2 separate regions of the Homo sapiens genome follow, and region 1 is linked to region 2. Evidence: fine-mapped expression QTL. A gene starts in region 2. The other region holds a variant in brackets. All regions are shown on one strand. Distances are between the middles of the regions.

Region 1 (5,383 bases), 250 kb before region 2:
TTGGAACAAATACAGAATGTAAATATCTCAATAATAATTTTTGTATATATTACATGTTGAAATGATAATATTTGAGATATATTGGATTAAATAAAACATTATTAAGACTAATGTAACCTGTCTATTTTTAGTTTTTAAACAGAGGCTACTAGAACTTTCAAAATTGAACATGTGAATTTCATTTTGTTTCTGTTTGGCAGCATGGAGTTGAGTGTGGTACCACCAATACATACAACACACACAGAGCACACACTCATATTTGCATTGTGCATGGAAAATTTCTGGAAGTATGCACAGAAAACAGTTAACAGTGGTTATCTTAGGGCAAAAAATTAGGGGTTTGAGTAGGAGGAAGACTTACTTTACGCTAAACATTTTTTGTAATATTTTTTAACGCACCTGTATGTAGGTTGGAATAATAAAAACTACAATGCTGACACAATGCTAGTGCTCTACAGTTTGTAGTGTGTTTCTCATCCTTGGTGTCCTCTGCCCCATGGTTCTGATAAGGAAGCAGGGCAGGCATCATCACTCCTGGGTGACAGGTAGGGGCAAGGGCAGCCTGGACGGGAATGCAGGCCTCCTCTCCCTGTGCCCTTGGCCACACATCCATGTCCATGCAGCTTCCTTTGCATCGTGCTTGTCCCTGGTTGTGCTCAAATGTCTCAGTGAATATCTCCCAGCCACATGCAGACTAATGAGGGAAGGAGGAGACATGTGCACACATCAGGCAGGGCAGAGGTAGTAGCAGTATCCAGACCACCTGTGGGGTCCAATGAGAAGAAAGTAGAGAAAGGGAGCAAGGCAGGGCTGGTGGAGAGCTGGGACCCTTCATGCCAGGAGAGTCTTCTTGTGGGTGTCCTCTGCAAGAGACTCACCCTTTGGGCAGGCATAAGAGGAGGATGTAAAGGCAGGATGCTCTTCAGAGCTGGATATTGGCCTGGGCTTCCTGTAAGACTGTGTGTGTGTGCGTGCGTGTGTGCATGCATGTGTGTGTGTGTGTGTGTGTGTGAGAGAGAGAGAGAGAGAGAGGTGACCAGCAGGTACCTAAAACCCAACTGATATCTGCGTGCAAATGCTCACACCATGTTTAAAGCCATTCCCTCTTCCTATACTGCTTTTCTTGAGATGGATGTCCTTTGTCCCCTTGATTCAATATTCACTGATGTTCCCTTGAGCCAGATTCACCTGCTGGGGACCCAGTGTTACTAGCCCTGTAGAGCAAGGCAGGTCTGATACCCAATAGAGGTGTCTGAGTGTACAAGAAATAACAAGGTCTCTGGGGTCAGAAAGACTTGATCATCTGCTAATTGCTTGGGCAAGTTATTTAATCTGGTTGATTTTCAGCTTTCTCAACTGTAAAAATAGGGATGAAAGTACTTATCCCTCAGGGTTGTTGTGAAATTCAAGTGAAGACTCTAAGCATAATGTTAGCTCATTGTAGAAGTTCAAATCAATAATGCTTTTCTTCTTCCTACTAAAAGATGTGGTTAGTCCTGGACCTTGCATTCACTTCCTAGGCCCACTGCAGGCACTATTTGGAGATTCTGAGGAAAGCTTGTCATACATATTCCTGGTGAAAGACAAACAAATGACTCTGAGAGTACTCTTACCTGTAACAGACCAAAATGTGGAACAGATAGCTCACACACGTGAGATACGCGGGCAAAATGGTCGCCACCCAGACTCCTGAAATATGAAAAGTGATATGAGAAGCCTTGAAAAATAAACATGAAATAGAATTTTTAAAAATGCGGAATCCTGCACCAGAAAGTTCTAAGCAAATCAAGTAGACTTTAACACATTTCTTGTGTAAGTAAACTTTTGCTCATTTTCTGTTTTATTTTAGCTGCACACACGCTTAGTATAGTTCCTGCATACTCCTCTCATTTTGTACTAATATTTTCGCTCTACAGTGAAGAAAGGAAGAAAAGTTATGGAGTATTTCCCACATATCATACATAGCCTCTGTGCATGAAAAACATATTTGACCTCTAATTGCCACTTTTTTGGGAGGGATGTTGGTTATACCTCAACCGGGTACAAAGATAGCTGGGATCAAGATGTCTTGGCTATTCACTCACCCACCCTTCAGCAAGTTTTGATATTGAGAATCTAATTTGCTTTTAGAGAGATTGTGTGCGTTCATGAGAGAGGGATGTAGAAACAGGGAAGTAGGATGATTTGTTGGTTTAAAAACTTGTGTAGAGGCCGGGCACGGTGGCTCACGCCTGTAATCCCAGCACTTTGGGAGGCCGAGGCGGGTGGATCATGAGGTCAGGAGATCGAGACCATCCTGGCTAACAAGGTGAAACCCCGTCTCTACTAAAAATACAAAAAATTAGCCGGGCGCGGTGGCGGGCGCCTGTAGTCCCAGCTACTCGGGAGGCTGAGGCAGGAGGATGGCGTGAACCTGGGAAGCGGAGCTTGCAGTGAGCCGAGATTGCGCCACTGCAGTCCGCAGTCCGGCCTGGGC[A/G]ACAGAGCGAGACTCCGTCTCAAAAAAAAAAAAAAAACTTGTGTAGAAGTTGATTATCAATAGGTGCAAAAAAAGTATTTGACAAAATCCAACATCTCTTTACAATTAAAAACATTCAACATCTGGTGTTCTGTTGCACAGTACAGAAACTATAGTTAACAATAATGTGTTGTATATTTCAAAATAGCTAGAAGACAGGATTTCGAATGTTCTCACCATAAATAAATGATAAATGTCTGAGGGGATGGGTTTACTCATTTAATCATCAGTCAATGTATATACATATCTAAACATCACATTGTATCTAATAAATATGTACAATTTTTATGTGTCAATTAAAAACAAAACAAAACAAAACAAAACACTACTCAACCTATTAGGAATACAAAATAACTTCCTTAGCCTGATAAAGAGCATCTGCTAAAAACCCACAGCTAACATCATACTTAGCAGTAAAAGACTGAATGCTTTCCCCCTAACCTCAAGAACAACAACAACAACAAAAAAACATATCTACTCTCCTCTAGCCAAAATTGTACTAGAGGTTTGAGCCAGTGCAATTAGGCAAGAAAAAGAATATAAAATGCATCCAGATTGGAAAGGAAAAAATAAAACTCTATTCACAAATGCCATGATCTCATATATAGAAAAAGCAGGAAATATACAAAAAAACTATTAGAACTAATAAATGAGTACAGTAAGGTTTATAGAACACAAAAGAAATATATAAAAGTCAATTGTATTTCTATACACAAGCAATGAACAATCTGAAAATGAAATAAGAAAATGATTGCATTTACAATAGTATCAAAAATAATAATATTAAATTTAGCAAAAGAATGTAGAACTCATACACTGAAAACCACAAAAGATTTTGAAAAAAATTAAAGAAGACATAAATTACTGGGAAGACTTCCCATGTTCACATATAGGATATTCATTGTTAACACAGCAATACTACACAAATGGATCTATAGATTCAACTCAATCCCTATCAGAATTCAAATGCCATCTTAGCATTAATTGACCAGCTAATCCTAATATTCATATAAAATTGAAGGAACCAAGAATAGGCAATAAAATTCTGTAAAAGAAAAAGAAAATTACAGGACTTGCTGTTTCTAATTTCAAACTTACTACAAAGTTACAGTAATGAAGGCACTGTGATACTGACATAAGGACAGACAAATAGATCAATGGAATAGAATTGAGAATCCAAAATAAACCCTCATACTTATGGTCAATTTATTATCAACACAGATGACAAGACAATTCAATGGGGCAAAAATGTGTTTTTTGACAAATGGTGCTGGAACAACTTGATATTCACATGCAAAACAATGAAATTAGACTCCTACCTCAAACCATACATAAAAATGAGCTCAAAATGGATCAAAGGCCTAAATGTAAGAGCTAAAACTAAAAAAGTCTTAGAAGAAAATATGAGAAAAATCCCTGTGACCTTGGGTTAGACAATGATTTCTTAGATATGACACCAAAAGCACAAGTGACATAAGAAAAAACAGATATGTTTGGCTTCATCGAAATTGGAAACATTTGTGTTTCAAAAGATATCATCAAGAAAAGTGAAAAAGTAACCCACAAAATGGGAGAAAACATTTTCAAATCATGTATCTCATAAGGGATTTGTATACAAATTATTAAGCACACTTACAGCTCAATAAATAAATAATGCAATTTTTAAATCATCAAAGAATCTGAATAGACATTTCTCAAAAGAATATATACAAATGGCCAGTACGTGTAAAAGTACATGTAAAGATACCAAACATTATTAGCCACTAAAGAAATGAAAATAAAAACAATAGTGAGATTCCACTGCATCTCCACTAGATGGCTATAAACAAAAAAGATGGATAATAATAAGTGTTGACAAGGATGTGGAGAAATTGGAATTTCCACAATGCTGGTGAGACTAAACAGTGATACAGCTGCTTTTGAAAACAGTCTAGCAGTTCTCCAAAAGGTTAAACATAGAGTTTTCATGTGTTTAACCGGCTATTCCACTCCTAGATATATACCCAAAATATGTAAAAAAAAAAAAATATATAATACTTGTACATGAATGTTCCTAGCAGTCTTATTTGTAATAGTCAAAAAGTTACAGCAACCCAAATTTTTATCAACTGATGAATGAATAAATAAAATGTATATTCATAGAATGGAACAGTAATTGACAATAAAAAGGAATAAAAAATAATTTAAAAATTTGGACACATGCTGTGATATGGATGAACCTTGCTACATGAAAGAAGCCTGTCACAAAGGGTGACGTATTGTAAATAGAAGGAATAAGTTCAAGAGACCTATTGTACAACATGGTGACTATAGTTCATAATGATATATTATATTCTACAAAAATGCTGAATGAATGTTAAGTGTTCCATCACAAAAATTGTAACTATTTGAGGTAATATATTTGTCAATTAGCTAGATTTAACCATTTTAAAATGATATATACTTCAAAACATTATGTTTTACAGAATAAATGCATACAATTTTAGAAGTCAGTTTAAAAAATAAATTTGAAAAAGAGATGACATTATCACATTATTCCATTTCTATGATAGAGCTGGAATAGGCAAATCCATAAGGATAGAAAATAGATTCATAGTTGTTTAGGACAGGAAAGGTTGGAGGGAAATGGGTCATGATGTTTTGGGGAGGTGATGAAAAATGTTCTAAATGGTTGCACAATCTTGAGAAAATACTAAAAACCATTGAATGGTACACTTAAATGGATGAATGTATGGAATGTGGGTTATGTCTCCATAAAGGTGTTTCAAGGCCAGGTGCAGTAGCTCACATCTGTAATCATAGCACTCTGGGAGGCCAAAGTGTGAGGACTGCTTGATTGCAGGAATTTGAGACCAGCCTGGGCAACAT
Region 2 (5,383 bases):
AAATTTGCAGTACAAGTACAAGATGCTTTTTTTTTTTTTTTTTTTTTTTTGGGACGGCATCTCGCTCTGTCACCCAGGTTGGAGTGCAGTGGCGCATGCTCTGCTCCGCTCACTACAACCTCAGTCTCCCAAGTAGTTGGGACTACAGGCATGCATCACCATGCCTGGCTAATTTTTGTTTGTTTGTTTTGTATTTTTGGTAGAGGTGTGATTTCGCCATGTTGCCCAGGCTGGTCTCAAACTCCCAGGCTCAGGAGATCCACCTACCTTGGCCTGCAATACAATATACTTTTGTATTTTTTATATAACCACCTGACAGCTTTGGCCCCTAGTTGTATTTGAGAGGGAAAAGCTGCTATTTATTTAAAGGAAGGACATATAATTATTAATAAATTGATTTTTAAAAAGATGTATTTGCCTGATGGTGCTTCTGAAAAGTTGTCAGTTTAATTGTTTTTAATTTGTTAAAAGAAAATCCATAGCCAAATTAAATTTAAGAGAATTTAATTGAGCAAAAAACAATTCGTGAATCTGGCAGCCTCCAGTGCCAGAGTAGGCTCAGAGAGACTCCAGTGCAGCCACATGGGGGAAGATTTATAGACAGAAAAGGGCAAGTGAGGCACAGAAACTGCAGGATTGGATACAGCTCCATGTTTGCCTTATTTGAACATGGTTTGAACAACTGAACCTCTTTGATTTACAGAAATTCGGGGATAGGCACAAGAGCAGGCTACAGTCTGTTTACACCTCCATTTAGATTACAATTCGCTATGTACAGAGAAACCTTTAGGCCAAACTTAAATCACATGGGGAGGCAGCTTTAGGCTAAACTTGATTTCACAAATTTTCAAATTAACAAGTAAAAACTGTGGATATTATTCAATTTAATCTTTAAGAGTTTATTAATCAATATGCATTATAACTTCATTTTTGTAAAAACAAAAAAAGATATGCCTAGAAAAGGGTTATGGAGAGGGCACAAGGGACGTTTATTTTCTAAAACATATTTTTTATAATGGATTTTTTTATATAACTTTAAAAAGAATTAGAAACGTTTCTGAATTATTAATGATTTCCTTAAATCTTTAGCTACATATATTTCTCCATAAAGAGCAGTTCCTCAAACTGCATCACCTCAACCCTGATATTATATATTTTTATTTTTATTTTTATTTTTTGAGACAGAGTTTCGCTCTGTCACCAGTCTGGAGTGCAGTGGCACGATCTCAGCTCACTGCAACCTCCGCCTCTCGGGTTCAAGCAATTCTCCTGCCTCAGCCTCCTGAGTAGCTGGGACTACAGGCGCCCGCCACCACGCCCAGCTAATTTTTGCATTTTTAGTAGAGACAGGGTTTCACCATGTTGGCCAGGATGGTCTCGATATCATGACCTCGTGATCCGCCCGCCTCGGCCTCCCAAAGTGCTGGGATTACAGGTGTAAGCCACCGCGCCCGGCCGGTATTAAACATTTTTAAAGTAAATTTATTAAATCTCAAAAGAAGCACACTTTGAATACTGAGGAAGAGACGTTGTAACCCATAAGCAGAGAGTAGGTAAGTAAAAGCAATTTCCACCACTCTCAGACTGGGCGTAGTGGCTCACGCCTGTAATCCCACCACTTTTGGGAGGCTGAGAGGGGAGGATCGCTTGAGGCCAGGAATTCAAGAGCAGCCTAAGGAAACTTAGCCAAACTCCATTTCTACAAAAGAAAAATTTTTAAAGCAATTTATTTCACCATTCTCAACGCTTTTCTCTTTTTTATTAACCAAATATTTCTGTAACTCTTTTTTTTTTTTTTTTTTTTTTTTTTGGTATTGAAAGACATGGGAGAAGGAAGAATTCCTGAATGCAACAGACTGGGAAGGACGCACCACAAAACGCTCCGCGGTCTCTGGACACCCTATCAGCTAGTCCCGTCCCTCCTGGTGTCCGGTCTCGACCATCCATCCCGTGTTTTGGGAGTGCCTTTCCTTACCAGATTCTTCTAAAGCCCTGATGCACCCACCCTTAAGTGGAAGGTAATGCTTCTGCTGGGGGCTGTGCGTTCTTCCACTCCGTCCCACCTTTGCCGTGGACTAAACAGGAGCCACTGAACGAGAGTACCCTGGCTCCCGGCCCTGCAGATTTTCACCAAAAACTCTAGGACTAAGTTAAAGTAGGGACTGAAATACCACACAGAGCTCGCTGTAAACCACCCGCTCAGCGCAGTAAGTCGGGATAGTCAGTAGATCTGAGCCCTTGAGGGAGGCGCCTCCCCCTCCTCCGCGCAGCCCCCGGGCGCCCGGCCCAGCTTCCCGCAGCCAGGGTGTATTGAGGTAGGCGCGCCCAGACCTGAGACGGGTTGGGACTGGGCTGCGTCACGCGCGGGCTCTAAGCGCCCGGGGCCCCGCCCAGTGGCCGGCACAGCCAATCGCAGCGCGGGAAGGCGGTGGGGGCGGGGAAGGCCGCCTGGAAACTTAAATCCCGAGGCGGGCGAACCTGCACCAGACCGCGGACGTCTGTAATCTCAGAGGCTTGTTTGCTGAGGGTGCCTGCGCAGCTGCGACGGCTGCTGGTGAGCGCCCCCGACCAGACCGAGGGACAGGGCGAAGGGGGACTGGAGGAGGGAACCCCCCTTTAGGGACACTGAGAGGAGGCGGGCGCTTCTGGGAGTGAGAGCTTCTGCCCGGAGCTCTGCCAGCCTCGAGGTGGGGAACGGGGGAGGGCGGTTGGAGACCCCAGGGAGGCGCCGGCACCACTGGGAGGGCCCGGGCGGGGCAGGTCAGTCATCCTGTGGGCTGAAGCCGGACCGGACCGGGCGGCTTCATGCCCCCAGCCTGGCCGCGGAGCCCCCGCTCCCTGCACCGCCGCAAACATTCTCGGGGCGCGGCGGCGCGTGCAGAGGGCGAGAGCAGGCGGTGCGGCCCCGGTCCTGGCCCGCCCGGAGCTCCGGGAGCTGCCTGCCTCGGTCCGGGCCCTGGCCCTGGGGCCCCTGGCTTCCAGCGGCGCGGCCTTGTGACCCTGCCCCGGTTTAGGGGAGCGAGTAGCACAGACCCAAGTGTGGGACGGCGGGAATAGTGGGTGCTCTCCTTCCCAGTGTCTCCTGGAAAGGGATTCCCGAAAGGTTTTATTCCAAAAGGAGAGGTTGGAAGACATAGCTCATCTCCTGCTGTGTATCAGCCAAGAAGGTGTGAGGTGGTGTTCCTTGGGGATCCGCTTGCATCTACTTGGGATGGTACGTCTTCATTAGTGAGGTTTTGCCTGGATGACCTCAGTACAATTGGTGCAAAACCTGGACCAACTCTTTCCTAGTTTTCTAGTTGTTGCCTTAAGCTTCTCACCCGTCAGGTATCTTTCACACCCTTCTCATACCCTAAATTATCGCATATGCTGTTTCAACGCCTCCAACTCTGCAGGCTGCTTTTAATTTTGGTGGGCCCATCAAATACCTCCACTTGGCCTGTTTCAGCCTCTTCCACAGTCCTTGGGGAAATGCTAGGGAGAATAATTGAAATATTTCTATTCCACGGGGGCTGTAAGATGGCTTTTTAGGATTGGTCTAATCAGATACTCATTTCTTTTCTCTTTCTAGGTTTTGAAACATGAATCTTTCGCTCGTCCTGGCTGCCTTTTGCTTGGGAATAGCCTCCGCTGTTCCAAAATTTGACCAAAATTTGGATACAAAGTGGTACCAGTGGAAGGCAACACACAGAAGATTATATGGCGCGGTTGGTAACATCTGAAACTGTCCAGAGGGACTCTGGAGAGAATGGTCCTCGCTGTTGGGAGTTGATAGCCAGAGAGTAGCTTCTAGACACCAGACCTTACCAGGCAATAACCTAACAGCACCCATTATAGGTGCAATATGGGCATATATCTCCATTGTGTCTTGGCTTGGAGAACAGCTCCCAGAGAAGTATCAACCCATCCCTGGCCATGGTTTCTCTTCCATTTCTGCCCGCAAATCGGCTTGGTGAACATGGGTTGGGTAAGTAGACATAAAGTCCACCAGCTATATGTTTGCCTCTAGAATGAAGAAGGATGGAGGAGAGCAGTGTGGGAAAAGAATATGAAAATGATTGAACTGCACAATGGGGAATACAGCCAAGGGAAACATGGCTTCACAATGGCCATGAATGCTTTTGGTGACATGGTGAGTGTGGCAAGGATTGCTGAACTCTGTGCTGCTTCTCAGTTCTTCACCAAAATAGTCTTGCTTTTAACATTTTATTTACTTCTCCTTGAAGACCAATGAAGAATTCAGGCAGATGATGGGTTGCTTTCGAAACCAGAAATTCAGGAAGGGGAAAGTGTTCCGTGAGCCTCTGTTTCTTGATCTTCCCAAATCTGTGGATTGGAGAAAGAAAGGCTACGTGACGCCAGTGAAGAATCAGGTGAGACAGCGTCAGATTCAGACCCTGTCTCCACAGGAAAGCCAAGAAGGAATTGGTGTCATTGCTGTGGTAGATGGTGGCACAACATATGGTGATGGGTTTTTTGTATTTTTGGTTTTTGGTGTTTTTTTTGTTTGCTTGTTTGAGACGGAGTTTAGCTCTTGTTGCCCAGGCTGGATTGCAATGGCGTGATCTCGTCTCACTGCAACCTCTGCCTCCTGGGTTCAAGAGATTCTCCTGCCTCCACCTCCCGAGTAGCTGGGATTGCAAGTGCTCACCACCATGCCCAGCTAATTTTTGTGTATTTTTAGTAGCGACAGGGTTTCACCATGTTGGCCAGGCGGATTTCAAACTCCTCTCCTCAAGTGATCTGCCCGCCTCGGCCTCCCAAAGTGTGGCGATGGGTTTTTTTTTTTTTTAAAGAATATTAAGGTAATTCAATTATGGGGTACTGTATTTGTATTGGTCTTGTAAATTTACAGCTTTTTTTTTCTCCCTTTTTAGAAACAGTGTGGTTCTTGTTGGGCTTTTAGTGCGACTGGTGCTCTTGAAGGACAGATGTTCCGGAAAACTGGGAAACTTGTCTCACTGAGCGAGCAGAATCTGGTGGACTGTTCGCGTCCTCAAGGCAATCAGGGCTGCAATGGTGGCTTCATGGCTAGGGCCTTCCAGTATGTCAAGGAGAACGGAGGCCTGGACTCTGAGGAATCCTATCCATATGTAGCAGTGGTAAATGGAGCTCCTTATCTTGTCATTCGTGCTCTGCTTTTGGAAAGTGGAACACTTTCAGAGATAACAGATACTTTTTTCAGAATTCACATTTTATATGGTAGAATCTACATCTGCAAACCGTGAGTATTGTCATTATAAATTATTAGCCTTTGGCCAGGCGTGGTGGATCACCTGTAATCCCAGCAGTTTGGGAGGCCGAGACAGGCGGATCACGAGGTCAGGAGATCAAGACAATCCTGGCTAACACAGTGAAACCCCGTCTCTACTAAAAATACAAA

Which allele goes with the higher level. Alleles are on the strand shown, and positions count from the first base shown. SD is a standard deviation of normalised expression in the study named.
For the expression in iPS cells of the gene that starts at base 2,483 in region 2, G is the low allele of the variant in region 1 and A is the other (large effect, 1.0 SD a copy in PhLiPS).

Evidence for each region. PIP is the estimated chance that this variant, and not a neighbour inherited with it, causes the effect.
Region 1: its variant is the best candidate, but not a certain one, in a credible set for the expression of CTSV in iPS cells (PhLiPS, PIP 0.68).

Annotation. Positions count from the first base shown.
Region 1 is chr9:97,283,966-97,289,348 of GRCh38, reverse strand. It overlaps SUGT1P4-STRA6LP-CCDC180 (SUGT1P4-STRA6LP-CCDC180 readthrough), which reads right to left. Exons shown (of 45, transcript NR_036529.1): 9 at 1,614-1,689. It also overlaps the pseudogene SUGT1P4-STRA6LP. Among named protein-coding and RNA genes, the nearest start is that of CCDC180, 21 kb to the left of the region's middle. The variant A/G (reference allele first, on the strand shown) is at 2,477.
Region 2 is chr9:97,036,242-97,041,624 of GRCh38, reverse strand. It overlaps CTSV (cathepsin V), which reads left to right and starts at 2,483. Exons shown (of 8, transcript NM_001333.4): 1 at 2,483-2,554; 2 at 3,572-3,707; 3 at 4,010-4,132; 4 at 4,227-4,373; 5 at 4,878-5,102. The coding sequence starts at 3,582. RefSeq lists a silencer at 2,139-2,448.